Regions from separate parts of the Homo sapiens genome. Here region 1 is linked to region 2. Evidence: fine-mapped expression QTL. Tissue or cell type: left ventricle. Region 2 holds a variant in brackets; the other region holds the start of a gene. All regions are shown on one strand. Distances are from middle to middle.

What was found. PIP is the estimated chance that this variant, and not a neighbour inherited with it, causes the effect.
Region 1: GEM starts here. The variant in region 2 is fine-mapped to the expression of GEM in left ventricle (GTEx, PIP above 0.99).

Annotation. Positions count from the first base shown.
Region 1 is chr8:94,259,041-94,267,226 of GRCh38, reverse strand. It overlaps GEM (GTP binding protein overexpressed in skeletal muscle), which reads left to right and starts at 4,908. Exons shown (of 5, transcript NM_005261.4): 1 at 4,908-5,137; 2 at 6,715-7,054. The coding sequence starts at 6,724. RefSeq lists silencers at 5,597-5,666, 6,808-6,951.
Region 2 is chr8:94,215,960-94,224,145 of GRCh38, reverse strand. It overlaps a transcript of CDH17 not described here. Among named protein-coding and RNA genes, the nearest start is that of CDH17, 11 kb to the right of the region's middle. The variant C/GC (reference allele first, on the strand shown) is at 4,564.

The DNA of each region.
Region 1 (8,186 bases), 43 kb before region 2:
TTCTTTAGGAGGCTCCTCCCAGCCTACTAAGATACATTCTGCACTTACTCTGCAAGCTTTTAGAAGGAAGGGCTCTAGCTATCTCTGCCACTGGCACTCTCCAGGCCTGCAGCAGGCTGGGCCAATGGAGGGAAGGAGGGGTGATAGCTAAGAATTTTTTCAATGGAAAATTCAATCTGCTCAGCAGGAGTCTGATGAGAAGCTGGGGGCTGGTCTGGGGAGGATGCAGCTGGAGGGGCTGTCCATCTGGATCTCACAGGCCTCTGGATGCTGACACGTTATTCTTAGCCATCTTTTCTTCTGTCTTTATTTTCTTGTAATCAGGCCTCTCTTGAATTTGCGATTGAAGGCTTTTTTATCCCCCTTCTCTAAAGCAATGATTTTCCATATAGTAATTCTTTCCTTCTTTAGACTTCCCAAAGTTGGTGGGTGGTTCTTTTTGTGCTCAGACACTTTGCAAATTGCTTCCCACCCAGCTCCTCCCCTGAATGTTTTTGTGGCTGGTGGAGACCTATGATGTGTGCTGGGTATTTGGCCTCCATCTTCTTGTTTACAACAACCTCCTTGCTAATGATATTTTCCTAGTAACATCTAATATGAGCATATTTCTCGCCCATCCTCCCTCCACCCCATGTGTCTTGAATTCTGCTGGATTAATTTAGCTGGAGCCTTAAGAGGCAGCAAAACCGAGGGCAGGTGGCTAAGCTTCAATCCTTGGCTCCTGCGTCATAATCATAATCACTCTTATTGACATAGTGCTCCGTGGTTAACAAGCACTTCCACATTCCATAGCTCTTTAGTCCTCAGAACAGCAGAAGCCAAGGCCTCTGGGGCTTGGTGACATCCCCAGCATCACATGCATAAGAGGAAAGGCCTGGATTTGAACCTCCTTTTCTGATGTTAAATCCCCTACCATTTCTTTCAGCCCAGGCAAAGATCCCAAAGTCAAATGCCTTTAGGGGCCAGGTAGATAGTATAAATGAAACTGCTTGGAGTAGAATATATTAAGGATTAGTAAGGATTGTGGGAAACTGGCCGGCATGCTTTGCCTAAAGGCATTAAAATGCAAAACAGAGCCCAGCACCTATAGTCCCAGTAACTCAGGAGGCTGAAGCTGGAGGATCACTTGAGCCTGGGAGTGGTGAGGCCAGCCTGGGCAACATAGCAAGATTCTGTCTCTCAAAAAACATACAAAAAGAAAGAAAGAAAGAAAAAAAGAAACATTTAAAAAATAATAGGAAAAAACCCATTTAATTTATTTCTTACTCAGTGTTTAGTCTATAATCTACCTCCTTGTTGGGAAAGGGAGAACGTTTGCATGGTGTCCCCTTTACCACTGAGTAGCATTTACTTGATGGCTTGGGCAAGCATGACCTTGGTTGTAGTAAGTCTATAGTATAGATGATTCTGTTGCTTTTAGATTCTGTTGCTTTTGGAATAGAATTACAGCTTTTAGAATAGTATAATGGACCCAGGCATGTACAGATCCTGAGCCTACCCATCATCTCTCCTCTCTTAGAGTTTTCAAGACATGGTATTCAAAGTAATATTATCTTAATGTCTGTGCAAGTCCCAGATGCCCTTATTTACAACCCTGGTCAAAGGTCCTATTCTTTCCCTACGTCTTTCCTTCCTTTCTCATCCTATTTGAAATCATGGGAACTGGTTGCTCAAGTCTACATGCTAAGTGACAGTGACAGTGGCAGAGTAGTAGGCAGAGTCCCCAAACAGACCCCAACTTCACCTTCTGCCCTAGGGCAGGGATGTGGAGAAAAGAGAGAGGAAAGGATGGCTCATGCCTTTAAGTAGAGTAACTCGGCCCACTAGGAACAGGTGGCCCAGTGAAGGTCATGGGCTTTGGCCAATCAGACAAAAACTTCTCCTTTGAGGGTTTTAGGAAGGTGGTAGGCCAAGGTGGGGCTAGTATGGGAATGAGGACTGACGTATATCCCCTACTCTAAATAGAACAGCAGTTAAGACTGTGGCCCCAGAGAGTACACATCTGCCACCTAACCACCCTGTGACCCTGGGCTGGTTATTTAACCCTCATTCCTCAGCACCTTTCCCCATAGAATATGGGTAACTGTAGGGGTGATGCGGATTAGCTGAGATAGGCATGCATTTTGGTAAGTAAATGTGAGTTATTTTTGTTGCTTTGAATTCTGCCTCTTTGCTATACTCTTGAGCTACTCATTGTAGCTAGAAACTGAGGAAGCCTTCAAATGCTGGCAGAAAGAATATGGAGAGAATAATTCATAGAACAAAAGACAACTTTCTGCCAATTTTTCCTCTTCAAAACTTGCCACTTACCCAAATGCCCTGATTCTACCTTTTCTCTCCAGCTCCACACCCTCAAGATGATCCCAGTGAGCTGGAATCCTGGTCGAGGGATCTGAGACTTGGCTAGATGAGATTTGGCGCTCAGATGTGCTTTTTGTGAAGTATAACTATGATTTTTCTCTAAATAATTACTCAAACTTAACTTTTAGTCAAGACTCTTCTTAAGTAGTGTTCTTGTTTGTGTTCATGTGGCTTCTTGTGAGACAGACAATTTAAAAAATTTAAAAATTGTTCTATTATCCAAACACAACATTGCTGTGTGCCCCTTCCCTTTCCCCAGTCCCTGGAGTTCATTTTCTTTTGTATGTTTCACATATACCAATGACAAATAGTTCATAGTAGATATTGCCTAGGTATGGAATTAGTTTTTTTTTTGTTTGTTTTGTTTGTTTGTTTTGAGATGGAGTCTTGCTGTGTCGCCCAGGCTGGAGTGCAATGGCACGATCTCGGCTCACTGCAACCTCTGCCTCCCAGGTTCAAGCGATTCTCCCGCCTCAGCCTCCTGAGTAGCTGGGATTACAGGCATCCACCACCATGCCCGGCTATTTTTTTGTATTTTTAGTAGAGACAGGGTTTCATTACGTTGGCCAGGCTGGTCTTGAACTCCTGACCTCGTGATCCACCCACCTCAGCCTCCCAAAGTGCTAGGATTACAGGCGTGAGCCACTGTGCCTGGCCAGAATTAGGTTTTTATAAATGTGAAGTATTAGATTCTTATCAATCGGCAAAAGTAGAACTGAGGAACTATATCATATGCTTATAAACTGATTTCTTCTTAGTTTTTACTCCTATGATGTTTCTGTTGAGACCAGTTGACAGAGTAGGAGTGTCAGTATGGAAAAAGCATGGATCATTTTGAAACATGGATTATTCATCAATTACATGTGTTTTAGAATGGAGTCAGTGATATACTCTTGGAGATGATCTCCCCCACCCCCCATCTCCTCTCCTTTTCCTTTCCCCACATCTGTAGCCACTTCCTGTCAGCGAAACCCAGAAGAAAAACTTGACAGAAGCAAAGGGCATCCAGAGAATTATGATCCCCAGGTTGTAGTTCCAGTTCTGTCATGTCCTAAGCGGTCATCTCCTCTCTGGGTCTCAGGTTTCTTATGTATAAGATAAGTAGGAGATTGGGGCCACAACACCTGAGACTAAAGGAATTCTAAGTTTTCATTACTCTATGGATTCCACCTTTGCTAGCTTGGGACCTGGCAGGTCTCAGCAGCTGGTCATGTAGCTAATTCTCAAAGCAGATAAATGCCTGCAGGATAACTGTGAATTGACTCTAATCACAGCAGAGTCCAGCTGCTTCAATAGATGCTGGTGCCTTTGGCTGCTTCCCGGAGCCACCAGCCAACCCAGAGTTGAAGCTGGCTGGAAAAGCAGATATGTTGGAGAGGCCAGCATCATCTCTAAACACAGCATCTGGGAAATACCCATGTCCCCAGAAAGAGGTCATTGAAATCCTTCACTTGGTGGTGCAGTGCAGAGACTCAGGAAAACCAGGCTTTGAGTCCTGACCCTGCCACTTATACCAGCGGTGTGACCTTGGGCAAATTCTCTGGCCCTATGTTATCTTCCTCCTCCATACAATGAGGGTAGAAATAGAGCCACCTTGCAGAAGTATAGTAAGGATTAAGGTCCCAGGAGGCCTAACAGTACCTACTAAGCAGAGGTCCTCAGAGGTACTTAATAAATGGTAGTAGTAGTTATTATCCTGTGCCCTTTGTTCACAGGAGTCTCTTACAGGGGTGTTGGTCTCAGTGCTCCTCCCCATGGCCAGGCTGTATTGGCTCATGCCCAAGGCGTAGCCTTGCCAGGGAGCCTGGTACAGAGATGCTGCTGATTGGGATGCTGATTAAATTCCCTGATTGAGGAGCCTCAGCATTCTGGCCCAGAGCAGGAGGGCCAGCAATATTTAGCACAATCTGCTTGGATCCTCAATTAAATTGTTTTTCCAAACTGCCCTTTTCAAGGTCTTGTCCTCTTTCCTCACCTCTTTCTGGCCCCTTCTCTCTGGGTCCTTGCCAGAGAAGGGAAACAAAGCCTTGTGGGGCTCCATCTGCTTCCCCCTATCCAGAAGAAGGTGACAAGGCTGTCTTCGTTGCAGAAGATGTGGTTAAAACAAGCCTTGGCTATTCAAGGTGGCTGCAGTCTCATCCTGGAGGCTAAAGTCTCTGCGCATTCCAGGTTGATCTCTGTTTTCTTGGCAAAACTGAGTTCTCAACTCAAACCTGCCTCTCCCTTCCATCCTTTATCCCGACAGCTCGCAAGTGCTTTGCTGGGAAGGACGATTAAGTGTCACTTAGTGTATTTTTCCATTTTCCTGTGTTCATCTGGTAAAAAGAAAATAAAACAAAATAAAGGAGGCCCAGGATTGAACTGTCATTATTTTTTAAATGGAGAGAGAAGGGGTCACATGACTGCGAGTAACTGATTTAGCCAAGTGGCTGCAACTCCGAGTTTGCTGCAGAGCCGCCCCCTCCCGGCGGGGGCGCTGACGTCACGGAAAAGCCCCGCGGCGGGTCGGCTGGGCTGGTTATAAACCGCCCGGCCGCGGCGGCTGCAGGCGGCGGGCAAGGACGGCGGGCACAGCGCAGCACTCCCCGCTCGTTGGCCCGGGTATCCCAGCGCGGACCCACGCGATACGCTGACGCCCCGACGCCGATCCGGCCGAGCCAAGTAAGGGGGACGGCCCGAGACGGAGAAGGGAGAGAGTGGGAGTTTCCCAGCCCGCAGAACTTTCGAAGTTGAGAAAAGAACCCCTGGAACGTGCGCTCAGCACTGGGATTTTCTGGTAGGGGTCAGAGCTTCAAGTGCAAAGGATGTCGCTTCTCATCAGCAGGTTCCTTAGTTCAATTCGGTAGAAGGGTCACCTCCCTCTACAGATCGAGTGGTCAGAGAGGGCAGCCCTTAATGATGCTTTATGTATTTGTTGTTTGAATGTAAGTCTGCCAACTGAGGTGCTGCTTTTGAGACTAAAAAACCGGCTGGTCGTCCTGGTTAGTGGCGAGATGTTGGGGTACGGAGTGTGGGGGTGAGGGTGGGAGAGGAGTGTTTGTGCATCTTGCTGATTGCAACGTAAGTACTTATACTTTATCACCAGTAGCCGGAAAAACAGACCTCCCGGCTAGGGGAGGCAGTCTGCAAAGGGAAAGTTGTAGAGAAGTTGTTGAATATCATTTAGGGGAGTCTTCAGCCTTCTGATTTGCTTCAAGAAGGGGATCTGAGAATGGTGGCTCAGGCCTGTGATCTCAGCACTTTCGGAAGCCGAGGCAGGAGGATCACTTGACCCCAGGAGTTCGAGACCAGCCTGGGCAACATAGTGAGGCCACTGTCTCTACCAAAAAATAAAAATAAAAATAAAAAAACTAGTGGACGTGGTAGTGCAGGTCTGTAGTCCCAGCTACTTGGGAGGCTGAAGTGGAGGATCTCTTGAGCCTGGCAGTTGGAGGCTAGCTACAGTGAGCTATGATCGTGCCACTGCACTCCAGCCTGGGTGACAGAGCAAGACCCTGACTCAAAAAAGGAATCTGAGTTGAATTAAAGAACTCTTGAGAATGGATGTGGTTTTTTAAGAATGAGGCACTTTCTCTGCAAATTTCATAGGTCTGAACATGAGCAGGTCATTTCTCTGCCAGGGTGTCTAGGTTTGGAGCCGGGATGTTTTAAAAGTGGTATCTGTGGGTAAGAGGGCACAGCTGAGGCATAAACTTTAAACAGAAAATTTCCCCCCTACCCCCAATAATGGCAGGTGGATGCTCTCCAGGCAGCTGGAGAGCATCAAGGCAACTTTACTAAACATGGAAGTTCCAATAAGTGCCTGTCCAGTCCAGCCAGGGTTGCAGTGGGCAGGGGAGGGGAGGGTGATGTCATTGCCACGTGTTTCCCACTGAGGCACAAAACCTGCTGGACACTGGTGCAATTAAGAGCCAAGTTTAGACAAGAGCAGCTAACCTGACCAGCTGGTCCCCAGCAACATTAACTTGTTGCTTTTCAAGCCATCTTTGGAGTCTGCTGGTTCTTTCCAGCTGCCTTTGTGCCAGCTCTGAGTGCAGCTCTTCTTTCATCCAAGTCTGCTTTGAGGAAGGGGGAAGCCCATGGGCAGTGGGTGATGTTAACCGTATTTGTTTTCCCATGCAAATGATAGTCTGCCTGAGGAGCTGGTTACTGACAGTGTGGGCAGCATGTGTGTGTCCAGTTGAAAGCCTGTCTTGTTGGGGTTTGGGGGACTGTTTAATTGGTGGTCTTTATGTTAGGGATACTTGCTTCTCATCTCATCTAATAAAATATTACTGATGACTGACCATGTATTTGAGCGGAGCTCTCACTCATGCTTACTAATGCTGCCATCTTGGCTGCTTTGCTCCCCAGGACTCAACGATGACTCTGAATAATGTCACCATGCGCCAGGGCACTGTGGGCATGCAGCCACAGCAGCAGCGCTGGAGCATCCCAGCTGATGGCAGGCATCTGATGGTCCAGAAAGAGCCCCACCAGTACAGCCACCGCAACCGCCATTCTGCTACCCCTGAGGACCACTGCCGCCGAAGCTGGTCCTCTGACTCCACAGACTCAGTCATCTCCTCTGAGTCAGGGAACACCTACTACCGAGTGGTGCTCATAGGGGAGCAGGGGGTGGGCAAGTCCACTCTGGCCAACATCTTTGCAGGTGTGCATGACAGCATGGACAGCGACTGCGAGGTGCTGGGAGGTAGGTGTCCCAGCCCCAGTGGGCTTCTTTCCACCAGGGGTGGCCCAGGAAGAAAGAGTGAGGGTGGGTGACTTATTTACCCACAGAGTTGGGAGCTGAAGTTAGGCATTTTGGACAATTGATGGGGGAGCTGAGTCTCTAGAAAAGCCCAAGCACAGGCTTTCGGGCAAGAAAATGAAAATGCTTGTAGACAGGACCAAAATCTGTTGATCCTGGGCCAGAAAGGGAATTCTTCAGATTCCAATTCTAAATGGGTTGGGGAAGGCTGATTAGAGAGGGCAGAGCCAGAGGGTCAGCGCCCCACTTGACTTCTGCTGACTCTGACTTGAACATTCTTCCCGGAACTCAGTATAGACACAGCCTTTTTCCATGGTTATACCTAAAACAAGCCAGTTGGAAAAGCTGTTAGGATGGCTTGATCAGTTTGCTTCCACCAATATTAGAAAGTTTTGTGGGTGTTAAATAGTTCAAAATCTGTATTTGAAATAGCATAATAATTTTTTAAAATGTGAAGTATAACAATGAAACTTTCTATAGAGTCTGACAGCTTTTCAAGACAATTTTCCCTGTACAATTTCATCTATTTATTGATTGGAGCCTGGCCTATTTCCAAAACTGTTTTGAGGTGACATTATCTCAAAATGCATGTATTCTTCAGCTAGGGGTAAAGCACAGCCCTATGTTCTGCTAAGTAATATGAGGATCCTGATAGCCAATGCCATCCATAAAGTGTCTTTCAGCCACAGCTTCAGTCTGAGCGTATGCGACCAGGGTAGTTATATGTCCCTATTTGCAGCTACAGAAATAAAGGAAGCACTGCTCAGTGTTTCCCCAAGTCACATGGTCTGTGTTCTGTCGCGACTCACAACTGAATCACAGAGTAGGGAGGTGTCTTAGCGATGACTCAGTTCTCCCCTGCATTGATGCATATTAATGTTATTCCTCACTACCCACAGCCCATCTCATCTGGAGGTTTTATTCTTCTTGATTGTCTCAGTGTCAAGGAGTTCACTGCCTCATGAGGCAGCTCAGGAACTGGGCTATAAATAATGACTCATTGTTGTAACATTGATTTCTCTCCTCACTCCTGGAATCTCAGAAGAGTAAAGGGAGAAATAGGGCCAGTGTTGTA
Region 2 (8,186 bases):
ATCACTCACCAGCTGTGTGACCTTGAATAAGTTACTCAATTTCCCTGGACCTTCTTCTTTTCTGTCAAAATGTGATGATAATATCTGTGTCATGGTTGTTGGGGCAAGAGAGTTATAAAGGTTCAACGAGGCAATTAATGTAAACTGCTTAGTACATCGTCTGGAATGATAATTTACAAATGGCATGTGGTATAATTGTTTGTAACCTTGTCATCAGCTCAGATTTCCCTGACCAATGGAGATTCAGACAAAACTCTCTAGAACTTTAAATTATGCTGCAATGATCCCCAAAATTCCTGCAGATTCTGGAGGCTTAGTCTCAAGTGGACAATCTTCCCATTTTCCCTCCATCCCCCCTCACTCCCAGGCCACTGGCTTTGTGCCTGCATGTGCTATTTCTGTTTCACTTTGCACCCACCTGGACGTGAATCCCAGCTCAGAGGAGCGATTTTACACTATTCAGATGCTGACAAGGTAGAACAGTTCTCATGCTTCAATACTCATTTTAGTACTTCGACTTCCAAATTTTTCCTTCTAATTCAGAAATGTTCACTCAAATTTTCTGTAAGGCCAGATCAAGAATGTGAAATAAAGAAAATTCAGCACATGGTACTATGGTTGAGTAGTCTCTTCTTGGGCAGCTTTCCAGTGAGAACATGTTCATTTTTATCCTTAAGGAGGTAAATTACTTTGTTATTTTATAAAAATCACCATTCACCCAATTATTGACCCAGACCCTCGGTTCAAAAACAAGAGCAGGATGTGTGTTTGTGTGTGTGTGTGTGTGATTTTTCACACTTTGATATTTTTAATAGAAAATTTAAAACATAAGCAAAAGTAGAGAGAATAATGTAATGAGTTAATGAACCCCCGTATGCCATCACCCAGCGTAGGGAAGAATCAGCTCATGCCCAGTCTTATTTTATCTCTGCTTCCCCACACCACACTAGCCACCCCGTTCAACCCAAATGGATTCTTTTGAGGCAGATCCAAGGCAGCAAACCATTTTGTCCATAACGATGTCCATATGTATTGGTAAATGATAAGAACTCTTCTTAAAAACTAAAACCACATAACCATTATCATACTTAAAAATAGATGACATTCAAATTTCTCTAATTGTATTATTTTTTTCCTTTTTTATTTTTTGAGAGTTGGTTTGTTTCAACATTCTTTTGAATTTTTTTTTTAATGTACAGGTTTCTTCTCTCCTTTGTTTTTCAGTTTATATATGGAAGAAGCAGAGGCATTGTCCTGCAGTTTCTCACATTTGGTATTTTGCTGATTGCAACCCTGAAGTGCATTTCATCTGCAACCGTTTTTTTCTGACCAGCGTTTCTTATAAATGCTAGACTCTAGAATTGGAAGTTTGAGCTGATTCAAGTCCAACTTATTTGCCAAGAATCCTCCATTAGAAGTATCGCATACTTCTCTTAGGAGACGCATACGGACCAGTTGTCTCTGTGATGCAGCAGCTGCTGATGGTCTTTGTTTACATCCATTATTTCAGTAGGGGTTGCAAAATGGCAATATTTTAATTCTATCATTCCTTAATTTATTATTTGAGAGACTTACATAAAGAGAAACTTTACCTTGAAAAATTACCCTGATACACTGTTTATACAGCAAGGACAGGCAAAACCCTTGATTCCTGCCCCGTATTTTCATGTTTATAATGTGGTTCCCTGGCATCCACTAAAGGTGGTCAGTGAGTATTTGCTGTCAAGTGTAATTATGATCTCATGGATTTTAACACATTTGATTTGTTTAAATTCATCAAAGTCATTGTTCTTACTTGTTCTCAAATTTTTCCATACTTTCCAAGTGATAGCCACTTAATTTTGGCTTCTAAATGCTTCGAAACAATCACAGTTTTTAGTAAATTCCTTGGTGTCTGGTATGTCAAATGTGCTAGGCACATGTACTTTTCCTGCCCCAGAACTATGGTCAGCAATTTCTCCAAGGAGGCTTGATTCCTTTAAATATCATTTTCCAATGATTTTTCAAAATTATAGGGCCAGGCCCAGCATTTTGGGAGGCTAAGGCAGGCGGATCACTAGGTCAGGAGTTTGAGACTAGCCTGACCAACATGGTGAAACCCCGTCTTTACTAAAAATACAAAAATTAGCTGGGTGTGGTGGCACATGTCTGTAATCCCAGCTACTTGGGAGGCTGAGGCAGGAGAATCACTTGAACCTGGGAGGCGGAGGTTGTGGTGAGCTGAGATTGTGCCACTGCACCCCCCAGCCTGGGCAACAAGAGTGAAACTCTGTCTCAAAAAAAAAAAAAAAAAAAATTATAAGCTGGCTTTAGGGCTGCCCATTGCTTAAGAATTGGTCATTGTTCCCAGCTTTTTTCAGTGGACAGAATTGAAAACACTACTTTAAAGAAAATGCATCGTGAGTTCATACTAATATTTTGAACTTGAATTTAGTATCACAGCGTTTTTTAAAATTTAGCTCCTTTGATTTTATATTTATCTATCTTCTCTCTTCTACCTAAAATCTTGGTTGCAGACAATATTAACATAATTACTTACTTGCCTTACTATATATATTTTAGAATAATTAATATTGATATCATTGCTAAAAGTGTGATTTCTGAAAACAGTGTAAGATTTCTTTTTGTTTTTGTTTTTGTTTTTTGAGACAAAGTCTCGCTCTGTGGTCAGGCTGGAGTGCAGTGGCACAATCTCAGCTCACTGCAACCTCTGCCTCCCGGGTTCAAGCGATCCTCCTGCCTCAGCCTCCCAAGTAGCTGGGACTATAGGCGTGCACCACCACGGCCAGCTAATTTTTTATATTATTAGTAGAGACGAGGTTTCACCATGTTGGCCAGGATGGTCTCAATCTCTTGACTTCATCATCTGCCTGCCTCAGCCTCCCAAATTGCTGGCATTACAGGCATGAGCCACCACGCTTGGACAACAGTCTAAGATTTTTCTAGGTAAATTTTGGTATCTGACTGTGTACTCTTCTAGGTCTCTTATGCTATTCTGGAATCAAATTGATTACCGGAAAGCTATATCCTGGATGGATCTCATTAACTAACACTGCTATGGAAAGTCTTTACTCAGTTGCCCTTTAATGTTCCGTCCTTTGCTTTCATCAAGGGCGGACATAGAAAAATGCCAATACAGAGAATGTCTCCATATCTTCTACACAATCACTGCAAAGAGATTTCCTCTTATATTGTCAACCTGAATGACAGAGAAATGCTTTCTAAAATAAAATATTTATTTGGGTATAGATCATTGCAATGGGAATATGCCTGCCATAGTAAACTATGCATGGATTCAGGGAGGTAAAGAAAGACAAAGGTTTTTAAAGGAAAAAATGAGGAGGATTACATAATTATTTGGAAATGATTATACTTGACCATAAAGATTAATAACAAGGGTGATCCCAATGCAGTTGAACAGGCAGTTGCTGGGCAGATATCCTTGTAGAAGTATTTTTTGTGTAAGGTTGCAGTGGCCATTGTGCAAGATTGTGGTTTTTGAGGCTTTTGTGATAGTTTTGTTATTAGGCATACAAGCATGAGAACCTGTCTTCATGGTCTTCCACAGGCCTATTTGTCAGGGTTTGTTTTGATTTTTAACAGTGCCAACTCCATTTTGATTCTGGCAATTTCACAATTGTTAGGTGAATCTAGAATTGGTTTGATTTGATCCAGATACAATGCTTTCGGCAAGAATCCTTCCTAAGTAGCATTTCATATCTAGGAGGAGGCACACAATGACCAGCTGTCTCTCTTTCTGTGAGGTAGCAGCCATGGATGACCCTTGCCTAGACTTACTTCCATAGAGGTTTGTGAAATGATAATATTTTAATTTTATTGCCCTCTCTTCGTTTATTAGCTGGAGGATTTCTAGAAGAGAAACTTTTCCTCATGATCCACAGCCCATGGCAAACATGATTGAAGCCTGGAAAAGCTAAGGAAAGTGATCACCAGTTGCCTTCCCCAATCTTAGGAGAAACTTAGTGACTCCAGGCAGCGTCTGAAATGGAGACCAATGTATTTAGACAGTGCCGTCTGGGGGAATTTATGTAAATATGCCGCAGAGGGATAAGAGCATAAGAGTTAATAGGGCTGGTTTAACATTGCCTACTTGAATATTAGAGTTTGCCCCAAGCAACGATTTTAGTTTTGGCATAAATTCTTCCAATTCTTTTTTAGACTGTTGTAAAACAGAGTCAGTTACCTACGAAGGCCTCTTCTGGTTGGTAGCAGTAAAGCCACCACAAGGGCAAGTGATGAGAGAAGGGCATGGCCACGGTGTCGGGGTAGAGGTGGTGACTAGGACATCGCATAGATTAGGAACAGCCTTCACAGTGGCAACGGTTGTGAGTCAGCATGCCTGATTCAAATCCTGGCTTTGTCACCTGCCAGCTATGTGAACTTGAGCAAGATATTTGACTTCCCTGAGCCTCAGATTCCTCAACTGTAAATGGGGATTGGCGATTTGACTTGCCTTTCAGATTTGTGCACATTAGAGATAACATAAGCCAAACACTTTGCCCAGTGCCTGGCACAGAACAGACGTCAGCTAACTAGAGGTCA[C/GC]AAAGTAACTGTTTAATTAAATAGTTAAGTGAAAATTGAGCCCACCCCTAAATCCAATACATGAACATTTCTGGTGGCAAAGTAACCTGTGAGTCTTTAAACTAACTTTAGATAGACTCTATGCAATTCGGCTATAAGTGTGCAAGTTTCCCGCTGCGAAGGGTTCTAGACTTCACAAAATATGAAGACATTGCTGCAGAATTATAAAGTCAGGGCAATGATTTAGTGGCTACCTACAGGAATCAGAGTTCCCACCGTGCTTCCCAAAGCCATTTGCTGAGAAATATTAATAGTACGACAAAATCATGTTCACTGTGATGTCTAGTGACCCATCTTAAGGTCTCTCACTGAAGCTTGCTGTATTTTATTTTTTAAAATAGAAACTTGTAAGAGGATCTGAACTTGACTTTCTGTGGCTTTCTCTGTATTTGGTCTGGTATGTTAATGACACCAGGTTTTAATTTTAGCTTCCTAACGGCCTAGGTAATAGCACGAGATAGGGTGATCGGCCACCAGTTGCTTAGGCTTGTGACAGATAAGGCTAACTGCTATCAGTTTCTGGTCTGAGTGTGGGTGGAAGATGAATGAAAAATACTTTTAAGTCAGGGCAAGTAGAGCTGAAAGGCTCTTTAGAAAAGTAATTTATAGAAAATGTTGGAATCTCCTCTTTATACCTTCAACATGTACTGAAATAACTTGGTACCGTTTTTAGACAAACAGGGTTCAGATCTCCCTAACAAAGACCTGTAATCCACCTTAGTTTTTACTTCCTTGGTTGGGCCATTATATTTATGAGCCCAAACAGACAGAGGAGGGGTGTGATATCGAGGGTCCACATTAGAATTCCCAAACCCATATTGGTGAAGAATATCAAGGCCAAAGAATAGCCTTGGAATTGGGATTCAGTCCCAATTTGCCAGTCTCTAAATTTTTGGTCTTAAATAGTGTTATGCCCAACCCCTATTAATCTTATAGGGATTCAGGGTTCGAAAACCTCTGGCACAAGATTCAAGAGGCTGAAGAGCCCCAGAGCCAGCAAATGAGACATGGGATTTTACTGCGGGTTCACATGCAGGGGGACAGGGTCCAGCAGCAGTGGGCTATACAGGAGAAGTGCAACTACTTGCAAAAAGCATCAGTTTATACAACATTTTCACTTAACACCCTCCCCTAACAACCTCCATCTGGCAACCTTCATTAAACCCAAAACAAAGGACCTCCATCCCCAGTATGGCCCATGTTCCATGGGATGGGGGCGGAGGGTGGAAGGTGCGGTGGGAGATGCTCAGATGTTCCTCATAGACAAGGAACCAATCTCCGCGTTGACCACTCCCGGATTCCCGAGCTCAGAACACACATTGAGGTGCATCTGCCCTGCAGGAGCATGCTCAGATTATGCTTAAGTTATTGCTGTCAGGTGTGTCTACCTTAAAACCAATATGCCTTAAAGAATACCAGCCTAATTATTAGGGAGCTGAATCAAGATTGGGAGAAATAAGTTCTCATTGCCCATGTCAAGCTCAGGAAATATGCCATTGACACTGAGTCCCATGGGACTGGGTCCCTGGTAATTCTTTTTTTTATTTTTTATTTTTTTACTTTTACTTTTGGTAATTCTTTCTATACTTCTTTGCTTTGTGACCAGAAAAGAAAAGGAACCTGTATTCCAGCGATATAAAAAAAATGATTTCAAAAAGTCCAAGGTCCTTACAGACCATGTTAAATTCCAGAACAAAGATCAGCAGGTCAGCATTGCTGTATTGGGAGCCACTTTCTACCCTGGTCCTGAAGAGGATTTTCAATATTGAGGGAGGGTACATTTTAGAAAGTCCACTGAATCGAGATAATTCAGTTATTGCTGGGGGCAAGGTACTCCTGGCATTATGCACAACTCTGAATAGTACCGGTTGGCTACCCCTGGCTTGTCTGAGTTGAGCCGAGCTACACTGAAGTTAACCACTTCCTCAGTAGCTGTGGGAGAGGATGCCTGCCTCCTGGACAGCTGAAAGAGAGCAGCTGCATTTGAGGGGGTCAGGTGGTGCTATTGCTCTGTAACGGGGGTCAGGTGGTGCTATTGCTCTGTAACAAGGGAAATGGGGAGGAAATATAAAGGGATATCAGCTGGAGCGGAGCTGTGGCGGGAAACGCTATAGGGGATAAAGTGGTGGGTATTACTGGTTCATGAAAATGCTACCTAAGCAGGCTTTTCAGCGAAGGCAGGATTCCCAACCATATAAAGCTCAGAAAGATCGAGTGGGAGGGGCGACTGGTGAGCATGTAATCACGGTGGAAGTATGATATTTTGGCTGTGGATCTGAGTTGATCAATCTGCTTAGTGGACTTGAGTCCCCCCACCCCCGCTTGTCTGATTGGGGCTCCTGGGAGGTAAGTAGAGCTGGGCAGGAGGCTCACTCAGCGGCTGCTACGGGAGCTTTGCCGAGGGTAGCAGCTCAGGCTTTATTCTTATTATTTTTTGAATCAGATCCGGATTCAAATCTGAGAGAATCGATTTGTATCTTCTTTGCTCCTGTATTTATTTATTTGTAAAGTAGTAAAAATACCTTCCCGTGTTGCTGTGAAGATTGAGATGCAGAGCAAAATTGCTTGGTAGAGGGTAGACACCAAGCCAGCAGTTCTCAACCTCGGCTGCACGTTGGAACCAAGGGAAACTTTAAGAATGACTGCTGCCAGGCTTCACCAAAGACCAGTCAAATCACAATCCCAGTGGCTCTATGCGGCCAGCGTTGAGAACCCCTGTACTAAAAACTTATTTGTACTGAGAAAAACCTCTCTTTAGAGATAAAGAAGAGGAGTGGAGTTTGGATAACTTCTAGTCAAGTATTGTGTAGTTAACTACCATTGATTTTCTTTAGTATAAAGTGGTAACTTAGAAGAAGTACAGCTACCTCTGTCCTGTAAATCCCTTTAGATATAGTCCTGGTTCTAGGCAATTCCCTTTGTTTCTCATACTTAGGAGAGCAGACTTGGGAAGATCTGAGAATTAAAAAAAAAAAAAAAACAAACCCTCTGGAGCCCTCCCTTTTTGAGAAGCTGGTCTATCTAATCAGGTTTAAAGCAGGAGCATGTGGGCTAAGTGAGACTCCAGCAAGGAAGTGAGGGTCCTCCGCCGGCCTCCTCCCAGGCCTCCTTAGAAGGGATCTGACGCTGGCTGAGGCTCATTGATAGAGCCAGATGGTCTCTCCCAAGCAGGGCTTCTGTTCTCCCCTCCTCCTCCACTGCACTGTGGGCTGCTCCTGTGGACCACCCAAGGCAAGGGAATTACACAGATTGCAGATGTGAGCTTTCATTTCCTGTGTTTCCTCCTGTAGCTATTGGAAAATTCTAGTTTGAAGATAACATGGCTTTTCCAGAAACTCCTGGATTGTTCCTGAGACCAGGCCCAATGTAATCCTGAGTGGGAAAACTAAAGGGAGGAGAATTTGGCCTCCTTGTCTCCTGAGTTACTAGGTTTAGTCATGTAGAAAGAAAATAGTCTTCGTTCAGGCAGGCAGTTGAGTCAAGTTTATCTAGGGCTGAACTGCCTGGGCTGAGACACTATCAGAGGGGCTGAGGGGCCATTATGCCCACATTGTCATTTTCTACTTTATCCAGGGCAAAGATAA